Linked DNA regions of Homo sapiens: region 2 is linked to region 1. The links come from fine-mapping of genetic effects on gene expression. A gene starts in region 1. The other region holds a variant in brackets. All regions are shown on one strand. Distances are between the middles of the regions.

Region 1 (5,364 bases):
ACAGACCGAGACTCTGTCTCAAAAAAAAAAAAAAAAATTAGCCGGGTGTGGTGTCGGGCACCTGTGGTTCCAGCTACTCGGGAGGCTGAGGCAGGAGAATGGCATGAACCCGGGAGGCGGAGCTTGCAGTGAGCCGAGATCGCGCCACTGCACTCCAGCCTGGGCGACAGAGCGAGACTCCGTCTCAAAAAAAAAAAAAAAATCAAATACATCCTTATTGAGTATGATGAAGCCTACCAAGAAAAAAGTGCGAGAGGGAGACCAGGAGAATGTATAAAGGAGATCCAAATTTGACTGGGGGCTCAGGGAAGGCATCCCTGAGGAAGGGATTGTTACGCTAAGATCTGAAGGATTAATAGTTGTTAGCATGGTGAAGATGTGACAGGTGGAATGGGCTGGGAGAAGGGAGCAGGCTCATTTCACAGGAGAGCGGAAAGCACTGGACCAGGGCAGAGGAGGGGCCACGTGAGAAAGGTATTTAGACTGACTGGGCAGAGCCTGGGGGAGGGCTGCAGGTGAGGGAGACAAGGCAGGTGTTGGGACTCCAGGGTTTCTCGTTTGAAAGCCAGGAAGGATATGGAGTGTTGGGACATTATTACCCACCCCCAGGCTGATGCATACTCCCTGGGCCATGCTGTATCTTCCTCATAGCAGTTACACAATGTACCAGACACTTTACTCATTTACTTGTCTGTCTCCTCCAATGATGACAAAGCTCCAAGAGTCCAAAAATTTTTGATGGTTCACTGAGTAATCCCCATGTTTTTTTAGAGACAGGGTCTCACTCTATCACCCAGGCTGGAGTGCAGTGGCATGATCATAGCTCACTGCAGCCTTGAACTCCTGGGCCCAGGCAATCCTCCCACCTCAGCCTCCCGAGTTCTTGGTAGTATAGGCATGTGTCATCACGCCCAGCTAATTTTAAAAATTTCTTGGCCAGGCACAGTGGCTCACACCTGTAATCCCAGCACTTTGGAAGCCCGAGGCGGGCAGATCACGAGGTCAGATCAAAACCATCCTGGCTAACATGGTGAAACCCCATCTCTACTAAAAATACAAAAAAAAAAAACAAAATTAGCCGGGTGTGGTGGCAGGCACCTGTAGTCCCAACTACTCAGGAGGCTGCGGCGGGAGAATTGCGTGAACCCAGGAGGCGGAGCTTGCAGTGAGCCAAGATTGCGCCACTGCACTCCAGCCTGGGCGACAGAGCAAGACTCTGTCTCAAAAATAAATAAATAAATAAAAATAAAAATTTCTTTTAGAGGTGAGGTCTTGCTATGTTGCCCAGGCTAGTCTTGAACGGTGGGCCTCAAGTGATCCTCCCACCTCTGCTTCCTGAGTACCTGGGATTACAGGTGCAAGTCGCCACATCTGGCTAAATGCATTTTTGATTTATGATGTTTTAAACTTATGACAGGTTTGTATCTGTATATCGAGATGGTAACAAGCAACATCCTCCCTGGGGCTTCTAACCCTGGAAGGAAACCAGAGCCAATAAAAATGTCTTACATGGCCAGGTGCGGTGGCTCACGCCTGTAATCCCAGCACTTTGGGAGGCCGAGGCGGGTGGATCACAAGGTCAGGAGTTCGACACCAGCCTGGCCAAAATGGTGAAACCCCGTATCTACTAAAAAAAAAAAAAAATTGGCCGGGTGCAGTGGCTCACGCCTGTAATCCTAGCACTTTGGGAGGCCAAGATGGGCAGATCACGAGGTCAGAAGATGGAGACCATCCTGGCTAACAGTGAAAACCCGTCTCTACTAAAAAAAATAATAATAATACAAAAAATTAGCCAGGTGTGGTGGCGCCAGCAGCGCTTGTGGTCCCAGCTACTTGGGAGGCTGAGAAGTGGGATGATCGCTTGAGCCCAGGAGGTCGAGGCAGCAGTGAGCCATGACTGCATCACTGCACTCCAGCCAGCCTGGGCGACCGAGCAGGATGCGCGTGCGCGCACACACACACACACACACACACACACAGTCCCGGGCCAGTCACGGTAGTTCACGCCTGTAATCCTAGCACTTTGGGAGGCCCAGGCGGGAGAATCACTTGAGCCTAGGGGTTCAAGACCAGCCTAGGCAACATGGCAAAACCCCATTATCTCTTTTTTTTTTTTCCTGAGACAAGTCTCGCTCTGTCGCCTAGGCTGGAGTGCAATGGCACAATCTTGGCTCACTGCAACCTCCGCCTCCCAGGTTCAAGCCATTCTCCTGTCTCAGCCTCCCGAGTAGCTGGGATTACAGGTACCCGCCATCATGCTCGGCTAATTTTTGTAGACACGGGGTTTCACCATGGCCAGGCTGGTCTTGAACTCCTGACCTCAGGTGATCCGACGGCCTCGGCCTCCCAAAGTGCTGGGAGCTACAGCGCCCAGCCGGCATATTTCATTTTATTATTTGACTCCCCTAGTGAAATGTAAGCTTCACAAGGAAGGGATTCTGTCTTAGAACGGTGCCTGGAATACAACAGACGCTCAATAAGTGGGTGTCGAATAAATAAATGTCCCACGCTGAGGCTTAGGTACGTTATGATACTCATTTTACAAAAGAGAAAACTAGGACACACAAAGATTAAGTCATTGGGTCGCACACCTAGTAAGTGGGGGAGGCGAGTCCTCAGCACACGCCCAATAACAGCATTATTATGATTACTAGCCGCTTACTCAGGCCTTGAGCTAAGTGCTTTACCCTGAATCATCGCGCTCAATTTAGCAATAACCCCGAGCCGGCACCGTCGCGAACGCCACTTTCCAAAGGAGGAAGCCAGGGCCAGACGTTGCCCTGCAAGGCCGGGGCTGGGCCGGGTTCGAACCCGGACGCCTGACGCGCCCTCCGCTCTCCCAGAGGCGTTACCTTGGTGGCCCCCGCTTCCTCCCCACGGAGCCCGGCGCTCACCCCCGGGCCGGGGTCGGGGTCGTGAGCCCACAGCTCAGCCACCATCTCCGTGTGAAGAAACTCAAACAACACAGTATCCGCCATGCCCCCTCCTCGCACGCCTAAAGATGCGCCCAGCGCTTCCAGCTCTCATTGGCCAGGCTTGGTAAGCCACGCCTCTTGCGTCATGGCGCGAGCCCTCCTACTCCGGCTTCCATTGGTGTTTTAGACTAGCCCCGCCTCCCCGCCCCGGACTCAGGTGGTGTGCGCGTGAGCCTGGGACACTAGGGGGCGGGCCTACGCCTTCTCTGGCCACATGTGGCAACATCTTCTGCTCTTACTGCCGTCCCTTCCCTATTTCCGGGTTCTCGAGCATTCCTATTGGCCAAATTACTGGTTACACGTGACATACTCGGCTTTTAAAATCCCTATTGGTCCACTCCAGACTTTCCTCGTCGCACAACCTGGAAGAGCCGGCCCAGCTGTTTCTCTATTGGCGGTTCCTCCATTCATGTGACTCTTCTGCACGCTCACTCAAAGCTGATGCTGAGAACTTGCTTCCTGATTGGTAGCCGGGCGAATCCACGTGACTTGGCCGCTAATGCCCGCCCAACCCGCTCCCCTATTGGTTGAAATCACAGCCCTTCAGCTGCCACGGTGAGAACGCAGCACTCGGGTTAGGAAGCGGATCTCGCAAGCTCCGAGCGTCAGCTGCCGGGTACGGTCTTTGGCGTTAGCGCTTCTCCCATCCCATGAGTGCCCCCAGCAGAGTCCAGTCGGACTGTCATCCTTTCTGCGACTCTGGCGCTGGTCCCGAGCAGCTCACGGGCCCGTGTGCTTCCGGGTCTGAGATTGGCATGGTGGACCAGGTGGAGGGTGTGGCCTCTACTAGGAGGCAAATTCGTAAAGACCTCGGCTTGGGACTCCGGGAACTCGGGCCCCAGATCCTTGTTCGAGCTGGTCTTCAGTTTCCCCATCTGTACGCTGAAGAGCCTGGGGTCCAGTAACCCCCATCATCACCCAGTTTACAGAAGAGGAAACTGAGGCCCAGACGGGGAGCAGCTGACACCAAGTCGTTAAGAGAATCAGCGAAGGGGCTGGGAATCCAGGACCTGCGCCTTTTACCCACCGCGGCGCCGGTCTCACGTGCAGTCCCTTCGCTCTTCTCCCCTAGTTCGGTGCCATGGCGTCCCAGGGTCGTCGGCGGAGGCCCCTGCGGAGGCCGGAGACGGTGGTGCCGGGGGAGGCGACCGAGACGGATTCCGAGCGCTCTGCGTCCTCGTCGGAGGAGGAGGAGCTGTACCTGGGTCCTTCGGGCCCGACGCGCGGCCGCCCCACGGGGCTGCGGGTGGCTGGGGAAGCCGCGGAGACCGACTCGGAGCCGGAGCCGGAGCCGGAACCGACGGCCGCGCCGAGGGACCTGCCTCCACTCGTGGTGCAGCGGGAATCGGCGGAGGAGGCCTGGGGCACGGAGGAGGCCCCGGCGCCCGCCCCCGCGCGCTCGCTCCTGCAACTTCGGCTGGCGGAGAGCCAGGCGCGGCTGGACCACGACGTGGCGGCCGCCGTGAGCGGTGTCTACCGCCGTGCAGGCCGCGACGTGGCCGCCCTGGCTAGTAGGCTGGCGGCAGCCCAGGCGGCGGGGCTGGCGGCGGCCCACAGCGTGCGCCTGGCGCGCGGGGACCTTTGTGCGCTGGCCGAGCGTCTGGACATCGTGGCTGGCTGCCGCCTGCTGCCGGACATCCGCGGCGTGCCAGGGACCGAGCCTGAGAAAGACCCGGGGCCGCGGGCCTAGCCATGATTCTACTTCCCAACCTGACTGCAATTTGGGGGTAGGCCTTGCTGCCTCTGGGACCTGACTCTGTCTCCTGTGTCTCTTATCACCCCCCACCCCCGCTCCCATCTTGGTGTCACCCATGGGGGCTAATCCGGTCCCCTTGGATAATGCTTTATATTGGATATAGTTCAACCCCTACTGCGGAGACCAGGGCCCCACTATCCTTAGATCTGGTTCCTCTCCCGATCCTGACCCTGCCGCCTGGTTCTGAGCCTTCCCCTGGGGCTTGGCTCCAGCCTTTGTTACATAGTTGCTCCTTAATCTGTTTCCACCCTGGGGGCTCACCAATTTTTTTTTTTTTTTTTTTTTTTTGGAGACAGGGTGTTTATCTGTCACCCAGGCTAGAGTGCAGTGGCGGGATTACTGCTCACTGCAACCTCGACCTCCTGGGCTCAAGTGATCCTCCCAGCTCAGCCTTCAAGAGTAGCTGGGACTGCAGACCTGCACCACCACGTCCAGCTGCCCGGTTAATTTTTTTCTGTCGGTTTGAAGAGGGGAGAAGGTCTCACTATGTTGCCCAGGCTTGTCTCAAACTCCCGGGCTCAAGCAATCCTCCCACTGTGGCGTCCCAAAGTGCTGGGGTTACAGGTGTGAGCCACCACACACTGGGCTCTGCTCTGCCTTTCTGAGTTTGGTTTCTGCTTATGGTGGGGAGCT
Region 2 (5,364 bases), 100 kb before region 1:
GAGGGGGCTCTGGGGCGGCACCTGCCGGTGGGTCTTCTTGTGGCGGTTGAGCTTGCTGCTCTGGGCGCAGGCGTAGGGACACTGGTCGCAAGCATAGGGCCGCTCGCCTGTGTGTGAGCGCATGTGCACTTTGAGGTTGCTGAAGGAGCTGAGGGTCTTCTTGCACACAGGACAGGTGGGGCTCCGCCGGGTGAGGCCGCTGCCACTTGCACGGGGGCTCTTGGCCTCAGCTGCTGGCCCCACCACTGCCGACACGGCTGCAGCCACCTCGGCCAGGCCCAGGAGCGGGGCCTCCGGGGCCTCTGATTCTGTCTGGTAGATGGACAGTCCGTGGTCCCACTGGGCGTGACGCAGCAGCTTCCAGGCCACTGTGAACTGTTTGCCACAGCGCAGGCAGCTCAAGGCCTTCAGCTCCTCTCGTTCTGGTAAGAAAAAGAGGCAGAGTGTTAGTGCGGACAGCTGCCAGCTGGACACCTTCTGTGGGATAGGCACTCCTGCAGGGGCAAAGGACTTGGCAGTAACAAGACACACACACCCTGGAAGGACCAGGAAGCTGACGCTCAGAGGAGGGGTGGACACGAAAAATCTGTGGAGTGGGTGCTAAGTACCTGAAAACATTTTTTTTTAGACAGTCTCACTGTCGCCCAGGCTGGGGTGCAGTGGCACGATCTCAGCTCACTGCAACCTCCACCTCCTGGATTCAAGCTATTCTCATGCCTCAGCCTCTAGAGTAGCTGGGATTACAGGCGCCCGCCACCATGCCTGGCTAATTAGTAGAGATGGGGGTTTCACCGTGTTGGCCAGGCTGGTCTCGAACTCTTGGCCTCAAGTGATCCACCCACCTCGGCCTCCCAAAGTGCTGGGATTATAGGCATGAGCCACTGTGCTGGGCCATGTGTTTGAAAATCTTTTAAAAAGTTATGTTAACTCAGTAAGCGCTTCCTACATGCTAGGTGCTGAGCCATGGCTCATAGCCCGGCTTTCCCTCAGGACAGGAAAATAAGATCTCCATTTTCCAGACAGGAGAACTGAGGCACAGAGAGGCATTTCCCCAGGGTTGCACAGCTTGGAAGGGGTGAAGCTGGGATTTCAATCCAGACTACTGGGGGAGGGGGAGAGGGCAGAACAGAGGCTTGCTTGCTTTTTTTTTTTTGCTTTAAATTTTTAATTTAGTATTTTTTAAAGAGATGGGGTCCTGCTATGTTGCCCAGGCTATTTTTTTTTTTTTTTGAGACGGAGCCTTGCTCTGTCGCCCAGGCTGCAGTGCAGTGGCGCGATCTCGGCTCACTGCAAGCTCTGCCTCCGGGGTTCACGCCATTCTCCTGCCTCAGCCACCACGCCACAGGGTTTCACCGTGTTAGCCAGGATGGTCGCGATCTCCTGACCTCATGATCTGCCCGCCTCAGCCTCCCAAAGTGCTGGGATTACAGGTTTGAGCCACCGCACCCGGCCGCCCAGGCTATTCTTTAACTTAATGGCCTCAAGTAATCCTTCCGCCTCAGCCCCTCAAAGTGCTGGGATTATAGGCGTGAGCCACCATACCTGGCTGGGAGCAGAGGCTTTTGAATAAGATTTTTGGTTTAGGCCGGGCACGGTGGCTCACACCTGTCATCCCAGCACTTTGGGAGGCTGAGGCGGGTTGATCTCTTGAGGTCAGGGATTTGAGACCAGCCTGGCCAACATGATGAAACCCTGTCTCTAGTAAAAATAAAAAATAGCCGGGTGTGGTGGTGCGCGCCTGTAATCCCGGCCACTTGGGAGGTTAAGGCAGGAGAATCGCTTGAACCCAGGAGGCGGAGGTTGCAGTGAGCCGAGATCCCACCACTGCACTCCAGCCTGGGTGACAAAAGCGAGACTCTGTTTCAAAAAAAAAAATTTTTTTTGGTTTAATAAAAATAATTTTTAAAGTAATTGAGATATCTGGGCATGGTGGCTCATGCCTGTAATCCCAGCACTTCAGGAGGCCAAGGCAGGTGGACCACCTGAGGTCAGGAGTTTGAGACACCAGCCTGGTCAACATGGTGAAACCCTGTCTCTACCAAAAATACAAAAATTAGCTGGCCATGGTGGTGCACGCCTGTAGTCCCAGCTACTTGGAGGGCTGAGGCAGGAGAATCACTTGAACCTGGGAGGCGGAGGTTGCAGTGAGCTGAGATTGCACCACAGCACTCCAGCCTGGGTGACAGAGTAAGACTCCACCTCAAAATAATGGGGTAGCTACAGAGAAAGCTTAGCGGCCACCTAGTAAAGAGGTGGTAGTGACCTGGGTCCCCCACCCTCTGCATGGATCTCAAATTGAGCCCCCAAACCTGAATTTGGATTTCTATCTGGACCTTCGGGGTACTCTCAGTGGACACTTCCTAGGTGAACTAGCCTTTCCATTTTTCAAATTCTAGAGTCTTGGATGGGACAACCTTTGTGATACAACCAGTCCTGGGTCAAGAGCACAGGCCTGCATTCAAATTCAGACTTCTCTGCTCCCTAATTGTGTGACCTTGGGCAAGACATAGTCCTCTGTGTGCCTCAGTTGCTAGAATTCAGGGACCCTAGAGATCCCCTCCCTTTCAAGGGTGGTTGTGACCTCGCTTGGGGAATGGTTGAGAGCTTTGGTCCACATAAGCGCTCAAACAGCAGAGCCTGTGAAACCAAGGTGCCCATGATTCTCCAAGCCCTGTAGTGTTTTGTTCCAGCGATTCCATCACAGCCCCTCGCTCGCTCCTCCAGGCCACTCTCCATGCTCCAGCTCTAAAGCTGATTCAATCAGTCACAAGCCCCTCCTCTTTCCCACCACCAGACCCTCCCTGGCCCAACCCTAAATAATTCCACTTCTCAAAAGTCTCAGAAGGGCAAGGGCCAGGGGGCTGGAAACTAGGTTTGGATTAAGCCCTGCAGCCAACACTGACCAAAAGCTCACCGAGGGTC[A/T]AGCCCCATGTGAAGGCTTTTAATTCCCTCCCAAGAGAAGGAACCCGGGTGTCCAGCACCCGGGAGCTCGCTCAAACCAGGGGATTCCCAGCACGCGGGGCTGGGAGATTCCATCACCGAGGGAAGCCAGAAGCCCCTTCCTTGGCTCTGAACACTCAGCTGTACTAGCACCTCAATCAGAATTGACAGAGAGAGACAGGAGGGGGTGGCAACCTCCCCATTCCAGCTGGCCTCCACTCCCCCTCCCCCCGGCCGCTGCCCTCCCTAGAGGTCCCCTCCTACTGCCACCCTGGTCCAGCCACCTGGCCAGTTATTTCTGGCCAAGGGGAAGGAGAAGTGAAACCAGGTTGGGGTGTGTGTTGGGGGGGGCAAAATCCCGGGCTAGTCTTCTGGGGCTGGCCACACCCTGTAGGCGGCCCTCCTTCCCTGCCCAGTCCCCCCCCGCCCCCCCTCCACCGCCACCACTGGTCCCTGCCCTAGGACGGGCAGGCCCTGGCCACGCCTAGGCTGCACCCGATGGGGAGCGAGAAAGGGGAAGTAGTGCTCAGTGCCCTGCCGTCCAGCCCAGCCCCTTTCCAGCAGGAAGCCCAGCCCTCGAACTTGAGAGGGGGACTGCACCCGGCTTTACTCACCTGAGCCCTGGCCGCGGCTGGGGCCTCTGAAGAGCTGACAGCCCAGCTTCTTGTGGTCCATGAAGGCAGTGATGGCCTCCAACGGGAAGGTCTGCAGGCAGCGGCCGCAGGTCAACAGATCTGGGTGTTTGTCGGTCCAGGGCTGGCGGTCTGCAGGGAGGAAGCGGGTGGTGAGCGTGGGGTGGGGCCAGGATGGGGGCTGAGGGTGCTGAAGGAGAGGGGAAACCGAAGGTCAGAAGGGGGCCTGAGGGGCAGGACGGGGCGAAGGAGATAAGGCAGGGCGAGGGGCCCATGCCCAAAGGGAAGGGTCCCACCCGAGGGTCAAAGGTAAGGGAGGCTGGGCCCAGGGCCCGGGGTGCTCACCGGGATAGTTCGGGGTCAACGGCGTCCACAGGGTCCACGGGTTCCGCGGGCCGAGGGCGAGGAGGGCGGCCCCGGCGGGCATGGGGCCAGGGGAGTGGTGGGGTTCGCCGCCGAACCGCCCCGCCGAGGACACCTCCTTCGGGGAGAAGGGCCCCAGCCTTGGGGCCTGTTGGGGCTGCGCGTCTGGCTCGGGCTTGAGTTCGATGACGAGGTCCTGCATTTCCATCTCGTCGTCTGGGTTGGCGGCGGGCGCGGGCTCTACTCGGCGGGGCGCGCTGCCGGCCTTGCGGCGGGACATGAGTCGCGGGCCGGGCGAGCGAGCGGGCGGGCAGGCAGGCAGGCGGGCGGGCGGAGGACGCACGAGCGGAGGACGCGCGGACCGTGCGCGCTCAGGTGAGTGACTGCGGCGACCCGCCGCGAACTCTTACACGTGCTGGCCGGGCCCGTGGCTCCGCCTACCAGGGCGGGGCTCATGGGAGGGGACCGAGCCGCCCTGCTGGGGCCCTGACGGCGGCCTAACTCAATCTAGGCAGTGTCCCGTGCGTTTGGCTTAGTGACCAAATTTAATCACACCGAGTTCCCACAAGGCATTGAAACAGCTATCCCTGATCCCGTTTTAGGGCGGGTGAAACTGAGACACGGCATGCCCACACGCACCCCCAAGCGAGAAAAATAGTCGGTCACGTTTCTTATTAGGTGCCTGATAGTAATCTGGGCTATTTCATTAAATGCATTACAATAAAAATTCATTTTGCAAGCATTCACTGAGTGCCTCCTGTGCGCCAGGCTCTGTTTGAAGCCCTGAGAATACAGGAGGGAATAAACAGAAGATAATCTTTGTTTGCACGGAGTTCAGACGGTGGGGGAAGACACTATAAACATAATTACGTAAAATATAGATGGCCCTTCATGATGACCAGTGCCATGGAGCAAAAGAAAGCTGGAAAGGCGGAGAGGGTTACTGGGGTTGAGGGATTCAATTTTCTCCCCTATGATGGGAAAGGGCATGGTGGAGCTGAGGCTGGAGGGAAGGAAGCCCAGCCAGTGGGCCTGGGCATTGAGGAATTACAAGGAAAGGGAGAGGCAATACGGGTTGGGGATTGAGTTCAGTGAAAATATGGGGGCAGATCCAAGCAATCTTTTGATCGCTTTAAGGTCTTTTGGTTTTCCTGAGACCGGAGCCTTAGGAGGGTTTTGAGCAGAGGAGGACTGTAATCATACACATCGACTCTGTTCCTAGACCAGAAGTCGCCATTAAAACCAAATAGCCAAGCAGCTCACCTGCCTCCACTCCGCCTCCTTGAACTTCCCTCCCCTAAGCAGTTCTGTCTGCTCACTGTTTGAAGTGGCATCGACACCCTGCCCCACCCTCAATCCCTGATGAGTATTCTTTTCTTCCTGGCACCGACTGCACGACAGTATAGAACGGCTTGTGGACTGTCCTCTC

What was found. PIP is the estimated chance that this variant, and not a neighbour inherited with it, causes the effect.
Region 2: its variant is fine-mapped to the expression of TRAPPC6A in whole blood (TOPMed, PIP above 0.99).

The regions. Positions count from the first base shown.
Region 1 is chr19:45,175,241-45,180,604 of GRCh38, forward strand. TRAPPC6A (trafficking protein particle complex subunit 6A) reads right to left here and starts at 2,997. Exons shown (of 6, transcript NM_001270891.2): 1 at 2,895-2,997. The coding sequence starts at 2,978. It overlaps BLOC1S3 (biogenesis of lysosomal organelles complex 1 subunit 3), which reads left to right and starts at 3,544. Exons shown (of 2, transcript NM_212550.5): 1 at 3,544-3,591; 2 at 4,048-5,364. The coding sequence starts at 4,057. The coding sequence ends at 4,665. RefSeq lists enhancers at 2,375-3,318, 3,331-3,400, 3,471-3,790, 4,331-4,831, 5,257-5,364 and silencers at 2,751-2,970, 4,141-4,450.
Region 2 is chr19:45,072,159-45,077,522 of GRCh38, forward strand. ZNF296 (zinc finger protein 296) reads right to left here and starts at 4,320. Exons shown (of 3, transcript NM_145288.3): 1 at 3,918-4,320; 2 at 3,555-3,704; 3 at 1-422. The coding sequence starts at 4,215. It also overlaps a transcript of GEMIN7 not described here. RefSeq lists silencers at 3,137-3,446, 3,777-4,016, 4,107-4,516. The variant A/T (reference allele first, on the strand shown) is at 2,923.